Linked DNA regions of Homo sapiens. The protein of the gene in region 1 purifies or fractionates together with the protein of each later gene. This does not show direct contact. Each region holds a gene or a part of one and is shown on either strand. Other genes may lie near its edges.

Evidence for each region. The genes of interacting proteins can lie anywhere in the genome.
Region 2: the proteins of ENPEP (region 1) and ITGA4 fractionate together in Homo sapiens (co-fractionation; one large-scale study listed by BioGRID). This does not show direct contact.

The regions. Positions count from the first base shown.
Region 1 is NC_000004.12:110,482,615-110,486,272, reverse strand, and holds part of ENPEP (glutamyl aminopeptidase), read right to left. Parts: intron 1-3,658. UniProt on the Homo sapiens protein: Regulates central hypertension through its calcium-modulated preference to cleave N-terminal acidic residues from peptides such as angiotensin II.
Region 2 is NC_000002.12:181,533,865-181,537,522, forward strand, and holds part of ITGA4 (integrin alpha-4 isoform 1 preproprotein), read left to right. Parts: intron 1-407; coding exon 408-506; intron 507-951; coding exon 952-1,071; intron 1,072-1,567; coding exon 1,568-1,663; 3' UTR 1,664-3,658. UniProt on the Homo sapiens protein: Integrins alpha-4/beta-1 (VLA-4) and alpha-4/beta-7 are receptors for fibronectin. They recognize one or more domains within the alternatively spliced CS-1 and CS-5 regions of fibronectin. They are also receptors for VCAM1.

The sequences.
Region 1 (3,658 bases):
TTTGGCAAATTATGGGAGTATTGGAACATCACAATAAACAACGGGATAATAACTCATTGAACAAATTAACAATCTCTGAGTCCTTACTCTGATTTTTTAAAATGAATAAATAAATGGGTGAGAAGGGAAAGTTATTCCTTCCAGTAGATTGCCTACTAATAATATTTGAAGGAAAAAATTATTTTAAAAAATCATCAGTGGATGCCAAATCCAGGGGGTGAAAGTTTGGTGAGGAAGGGATATTTGCAAGGTTTCAAAAACTCCCTGAAAGTTACCTAAAGAGAAACCTTGTAACTTTACAATGGAGACGCTTGGTGGACACTACCTTAAGCAAGCTATCAAAGGAAGCATCAGTAATAATAGTTCAAACCAGCACAATGTGTCTCTAATGTGATTTCCTGAGAGAGACACATCACTTCTGTGATAGTCCTGACAGAAAAAAAAAAACAAAAAACTTAACTTGCATTTTTAAATCATGAGGAAAATCAGACAAACTACAACTGAGGGACATTCTCAAAATAGCCAGCCTGTATTCTTCAAAAATATTAACTTTAGAAAGACAAAGAAGGACTAAGGGACTGGTTTCAGTTTAAAGGAGTCTAAAAGGGCATGACACTAAGTGCAATGCAGCATTCCAGACTGGGTACTGCACTGGGGGAAAAAACATTCAAAAAGACATCATTAGGTTAGTTGATAAAATTCTATTACAGACTGTGAATTAGATAGTTGTATTAATGTTAAATTTCTTGATTTTGATGACTGTACTATGTTTATTTTAGAGAATGCCCCCGTGCTTAAGAAATATGCTCTGATGTTAAGGGGTAAAGGGAGAGGATGTTTCCATGTGCTCTGGAAAGGAAGGGGAAGGGGTACAGGCTAAAACGTAAACAATTGGTGAATCTAGGTTAAGTATTTCTAGGAATTCCTAGTACCGTTCTTATAACTTTCCTATGAGTCTGAAATTATGTCACAATAAAGTTACCCAAGAAAAGCCTCAGTTAAGAATTCATTCTGCAATAGAACAATCATTGATTAGTTTTGTGACATTAACAGTTTAGTCAATTGAAGTTTCTAAACATCTTGCAGATTGTAGTTAATTGCAAGTATATCAGACTCTAAAAAAGCCTGTACACTTTCCCAGAGTTTGAAAGTTTTATAAGATCCACCAAGCTCCAACCCCATGTTTAGTCAGCTGCCTTTTCCTTCTGAATTCTTCTGACTTCTGATGTCTTCCAGAGGCAGGGGAAAAGGAAAAGTCACTCCTTGCAAGAATGTCTCCTCTGAGTCACACCTCAGAAATAGGCCAGCTAACTAATTTGAGAAGATGAGTGTGTGTGAGTGTGCGTGCGTGCATGCGCGCACCACACACATCTTCGTGTGTGGGAGGTGAGAGGAAGGAGGAAGTGGAATTACACTTTCCTAAGCTATAGCCATGGGGTATGTTTTCAAATACTCTATTTTACTCTTGGCTGGATGCCAGAATATGAATATATATATATATAATATAATATATATATAAAATATAATATAATATATATAATATATATTCCTAAGATCCCAGGAAAGAAAATAATTTTCAATCCTTTTCTCACCTTCTCTCTTTAAAAGACATTCTGCTTGATTGTAGGCAAAAACTACCTTCCTAAACTAGCGTATTCCTGAGCTTGCCAACGGACATGGAACAGAACAGTGTGGGAGATTTCTCTGTGCGGTGTGTTTGGCCCAGCTCAGTGGTCCTCTCAGCAAATGTCAGTCACAGCAAGTCTAACTCAATCACAGTGACCCAGATATAGATACAGTGACATTCATCAACCCGAAGAGCTATATAATGTTTATTTTCTTTTTCTTTTTTAAAGTTCAGAGCCAATATGATTTTATGGGGAAAACCCTTTTCTAAGAGCAAACATTCTTACATTCTAATCCACTTCAGCTACTAAAGTGTGATCTTGACCAAGTCACAAAACCCCAGACTTTTAGTGTCCTCATCTGTAAAACCTGGTCACCAGAGCATGTATAGCCTCCTCACAGCGTTATGGGGAAGTGAGAAGGCGTAGATTACATGTAGTAATACATTTGAAACTCCCTTAAAATTTACATAATGTGGTTAGGATATACCTCATTCTACATCTTATAAATCTAGAATGCTAGTGCTTTCTGACATAGCACTTTCACAATCTGAAATATTTCAAATCCTTTCATTTGACTGCAATATATACTGGAACAAAATTACTTGGTGTATATACACTATAGGCAATGTAAGCATTTTTAAAATGGTAACCTGTTCTTTTTCTCATGAACTTCAGAATAACTCAAAAGCTCCTTTTTATATATCCTAAATTCCATCAGTTGGCCCTAAACTTTTCTAAGTGTGTGCAAAGTTGAAAACAAGGAATAAGAGATAACAATACAAAACAATTCTAGATCACAACTTCTTTGGGAAGATTTTATTCAGTGATTAAAATCAGATGACTTGTCTTGCAAATTAAGAGAAAAAGGCTGACTAATAGCACAATATGTTCAGGAGTGACTTGTGGGTACGTCCTGAATAATTATCGCGCCAGGCAAATGTGTTGGAGTAAACCACCTTCCCACAAGGGCCTCCCTATGCCACATTAATAAGTCACTTACTAGACCTAGCACAATAAAATGATAGTCTATGCAATTTAGTCGTTTCCAAAAGGGAAGAGCATTTCTCTGGCATCTCTGAGTGGATCAGATCAAGGTGACTTTAAGAAAACTGAGGGAGAAGGGGCGATGGCACAAGTTATGGCTTGGATCACTCTGAATTGACTCTAAAAAAAAAACCAAAAAAGGTACCTAATTATCTCATAAATCATCTGGCATGCTGTTTCCAGTGAAGACTCTCTGGCTGTGCTGAGCAATTTTATAAGTTGAACCAGCAAAATAAACAGCAAGTTTTGGGTGAAATCCTTAAACACAGAGCTTCTGATTCGGGACAGGTAGTCACAATTGCTAGGGGTCTATATAGACTAAATAAAGGGTTCCAGAATTACATAGAGGAGCAGCTTGGTGAAAAACAACCCCTCTAGATTGTTCAGACCTCTATGTATTTTTATGGTGGTTTGAATGAACCAGTTAGTTATTTAACTTTATTTTCCAATTTTTTTTTTCTATGTAGAAGATATTCAAGGTCAAGTAAAATTTCTTTTTGTTTTCTTGCTTCCAAAATAAAAGAAATTTACTTAGCCTCCTGCAACAAGTAAACAAGACCAAAAAGAAAATGTATTCTTTTTTTGTTTGTTTGAGATGGAGTCTCACTCTGTCACCCAGGCTAGAGTGCAGTGGCGCGATCTTGACTCACTACAACCTCCGCCTCCTGGGTTCAAGCAATTCTCCTGCCTCAGCCTCCAGAGTAGCTGGGATTACAGGCATGTGCCACTACCCCCGGCTAATTTTTGTATTTTTAGTAGAGGCGGGGTTTCACCATGTTAGCCAGGCTGCTCTCGAACTCCTGACCTCAGGTGATCCGCCCACCTCAGCCTTCCAAAATGCTGGGATTACAGGCATGAGCCACCTCGCCCAACCTAAAATCTATTCTTTATTGACATTTTTATTGACAATGGGATAATAGCTCAGCATACTAATCTAAGAATATAATGAACAAACTGACATACGACAAAAATTTCAAGATCAAAAC
Region 2 (3,658 bases), on another chromosome or scaffold:
GCTTTAGATAGTAAAGTTCTGAGTTCATCCACTGATTTTATATTTGAATTCTATAATGTATTTAATTTAGAAAGAAATAAAAAGCCCAAATAAGATAGATTCAATATGCGGTGGTGGGGTGGAGAACAATGGTAAATGGTAACTTACCTCTTTCTGTAGTCTAATATTTAAATCAAGTTATTTGCAAGGTAGCTGTTTAATCAAAGGATTTCAATAAAATGATACTATATAAATTAATACCAAGACCACACTTTGGGAACCAAAGGAGGCACTGCAGTTAATTTTAAGTGGTGAAATAAATTGGGGAAGGTAAATTGTGAAAACCTCTAGCTAGAAGGTAAAGATCCTGATAAATTATGTCTTTATGAAATAAACCAGGCTATGGTGATCCTTCTTTTATTAAACAGGATGAGACTTCAGCACTCAAGTTTGAAATAAGAGCAACAGGTTTTCCAGAGCCAAATCCAAGAGTAATTGAACTAAACAAGGATGAGAATGTTGCGCATGTAAGATTACCCTCTTAACTGCTACATTAAAATTATAGGAAAACACATTTCAAGGGTGTCTATAATTACTTCCTTCTGAGTAACTGAGTTGGGAAAGTAGAGTGTGACCAGCTCATGGAGGGCCCCCAATACTTGGTTGAGAGTTGGCATTTTCCACAACTGGCAGGAGGGAACAATACAGCAGTTCTTTCAGAGAGGTGAATTGGGCAGCAGTGAGAATTGAATAGATTGGAGGAAAAGTCATGGATACAGCCCATTACACTCACTGTTTCTGCTAAACAGTTACCAGTGTTTCCTGCAATTATATTAGAACCAGCAAGAAAATGGGCTGGGCAGTTCTAAATACTACTGGGGATTATGGCAGGGCTTTAAAGGAAATATAAGCAACGTTTTAAACTGATTTTTTTTTTTGGTTTTTGAGTTTTATTTTTCTTAACTCACGTAGGTTCTACTGGAAGGACTACATCATCAAAGACCCAAACGTTATTTCACCATAGTGATTATTTCAAGTAGCTTGCTACTTGGACTTATTGTACTTCTATTGATCTCATATGTTATGTGGAAGGTAAGCATTTAACAATTACCAACATTAGTCTACTAAAAATGACATTTTCTCAAAGCCAATTTGACTTCCAAGTTATTAGATTTAAATATTTCACTATTTGAATGTTAACTTTTTATGTTGCTCAGTACTGATCTCACATTTCTCTTCAACACCAAAGTCTTTCTAGAAAAATATGCATTCTTAATTTGTTTTGAAAGACAGACGTTCCTTTTAAAAAACCATTTGGAAAAGATTGCAAATTACACGGAATGTCAATTTTGGAGAGAATGTGGTGTGTATCACTGAGAATTTCTGCATTAAAAACAAAAATGTTTCTTTAACCCAGTATGTCCCCACTAATTTTTACTGATTACCTCTGTTAAACCTTTATGACTGATGTTACAAGGGATGCAGTTTAAGAAATATTGGTGTTAACTGCTTAGATATTAGAAATGAGTATAGTAGATAAGAGAGTGTTCATAACTATACACTAGTGATTATGTTATGCTATTTTCAGGCTGGCTTCTTTAAAAGACAATACAAATCTATCCTACAAGAAGAAAACAGAAGAGACAGTTGGAGTTATATCAACAGTAAAAGCAATGATGATTAAGGACTTCTTTCAAATTGAGAGAATGGAAAACAGACTCAGGTTGTAGTAAAGAAATTTAAAAGACACTGTTTACAAGAAAAAATGAATTTTGTTTGGACTTCTTTTACTCATGATCTTGTGACATATTATGTCTTCATGCAAGGGGAAAATCTCAGCAATGATTACTCTTTGAGATAGAAGAACTGCAAAGGTAATAATACAGCCAAAGATAATCTCTCAGCTTTTAAATGGGTAGAGAAACACTAAAGCATTCAATTTATTCAAGAAAAGTAAGCCCTTGAAGATATCTTGAAATGAAAGTATAACTGAGTTAAATTATACTGGAGAAGTCTTAGACTTGAAATACTACTTACCATATGTGCTTGCCTCAGTAAAATGAACCCCACTGGGTGGGCAGAGGTTCATTTCAAATACATCTTTGATACTTGTTCAAAATATGTTCTTTAAAAATATAATTTTTTAGAGAGCTGTTCCCAAATTTTCTAACGAGTGGACCATTATCACTTTAAAGCCCTTTATTTATAATACATTTCCTACGGGCTGTGTTCCAACAACCATTTTTTTTCAGCAGACTATGAATATTATAGTATTATAGGCCAAACTGGCAAACTTCAGACTGAACATGTACACTGGTTTGAGCTTAGTGAAATTACTTCTGGATAATTATTTTTTTATAATTATGGATTTCACCATCTTTCTTTCTGTATATATACATGTGTTTTTATGTAGGTATATATTTACCATTCTTCCTATCTATTCTTCCTATAACACACCTTTATCAAGCATACCCAGGAGTAATCTTCAAATCTTTTGTTATATTCTGAAACAAAAGATTGTGAGTGTTGCACTTTACCTGATACACGCTGATTTAGAAAATACAGAAACCATACCTCACTAATAACTTTAAAATCAAAGCTGTGCAAAGACTAGGGGGCCTATACTTCATATGTATTATGTACTATGTAAAATATTGACTATCACACAACTATTTCCTTGGATGTAATTCTTTGTTACCCTTTACAAGTATAAGTGTTACCTTACATGGAAACGAAGAAACAAAATTCATAAATTTAAATTCATAAATTTAGCTGAAAGATACTGATTCAATTTGTATACAGTGAATATAAATGAGACGACAGCAAAATTTTCATGAAATGTAAAATATTTTTATAGTTTGTTCATACTATATGAGGTTCTATTTTAAATGACTTTCTGGATTTTAAAAAATTTCTTTAAATACAATCATTTTTGTAATATTTATTTTATGCTTATGATCTAGATAATTGCAGAATATCATTTTATCTGACTCTGCCTTCATAAGAGAGCTGTGGCCGAATTTTGAACATCTGTTATAGGGAGTGATCAAATTAGAAGGCAATGTGGAAAAACAATTCTGGGAAAGATTTCTTTATATGAAGTCCCTGCCACTAGCCAGCCATCCTAATTGATGAAAGTTATCTGTTCACAGGCCTGCAGTGATGGTGAGGAATGTTCTGAGATTTGCGAAGGCATTTGAGTAGTGAAATGTAAGCACAAAACCTCCTGAACCCAGAGTGTGTATACACAGGAATAAACTTTATGACATTTATGTATTTTTAAAAAACTTTGTATCGTTATAAAAAGGCTAGTCATTCTTTCAGGAGAACATCTAGGATCATAGATGAAAAATCAAGCCCCGATTTAGAACTGTCTTCTCCAGGATGGTCTCTAAGGAAATTTACATTTGGTTCTTTCCTACTCAGAACTACTCAGAAACAACTATATATTTCAGGTTATCTGAGCACAGTGAAAGCAGAGTACTATGGTTGTCCAACACAGGCCTCTCAGATACAAGGGGAACACAATTACATATTGGGCTAGATTTTGCCCAGTTCAAAATAGTATTTGTTATCAACTTACTTTGTTACTTGTATCATGAATTTTAAAACCCTACCACTTTAAGAAGACAGGGATGGGTTATTCTTTTTTGGCAGGTAGGCTATATAACTATGTGAT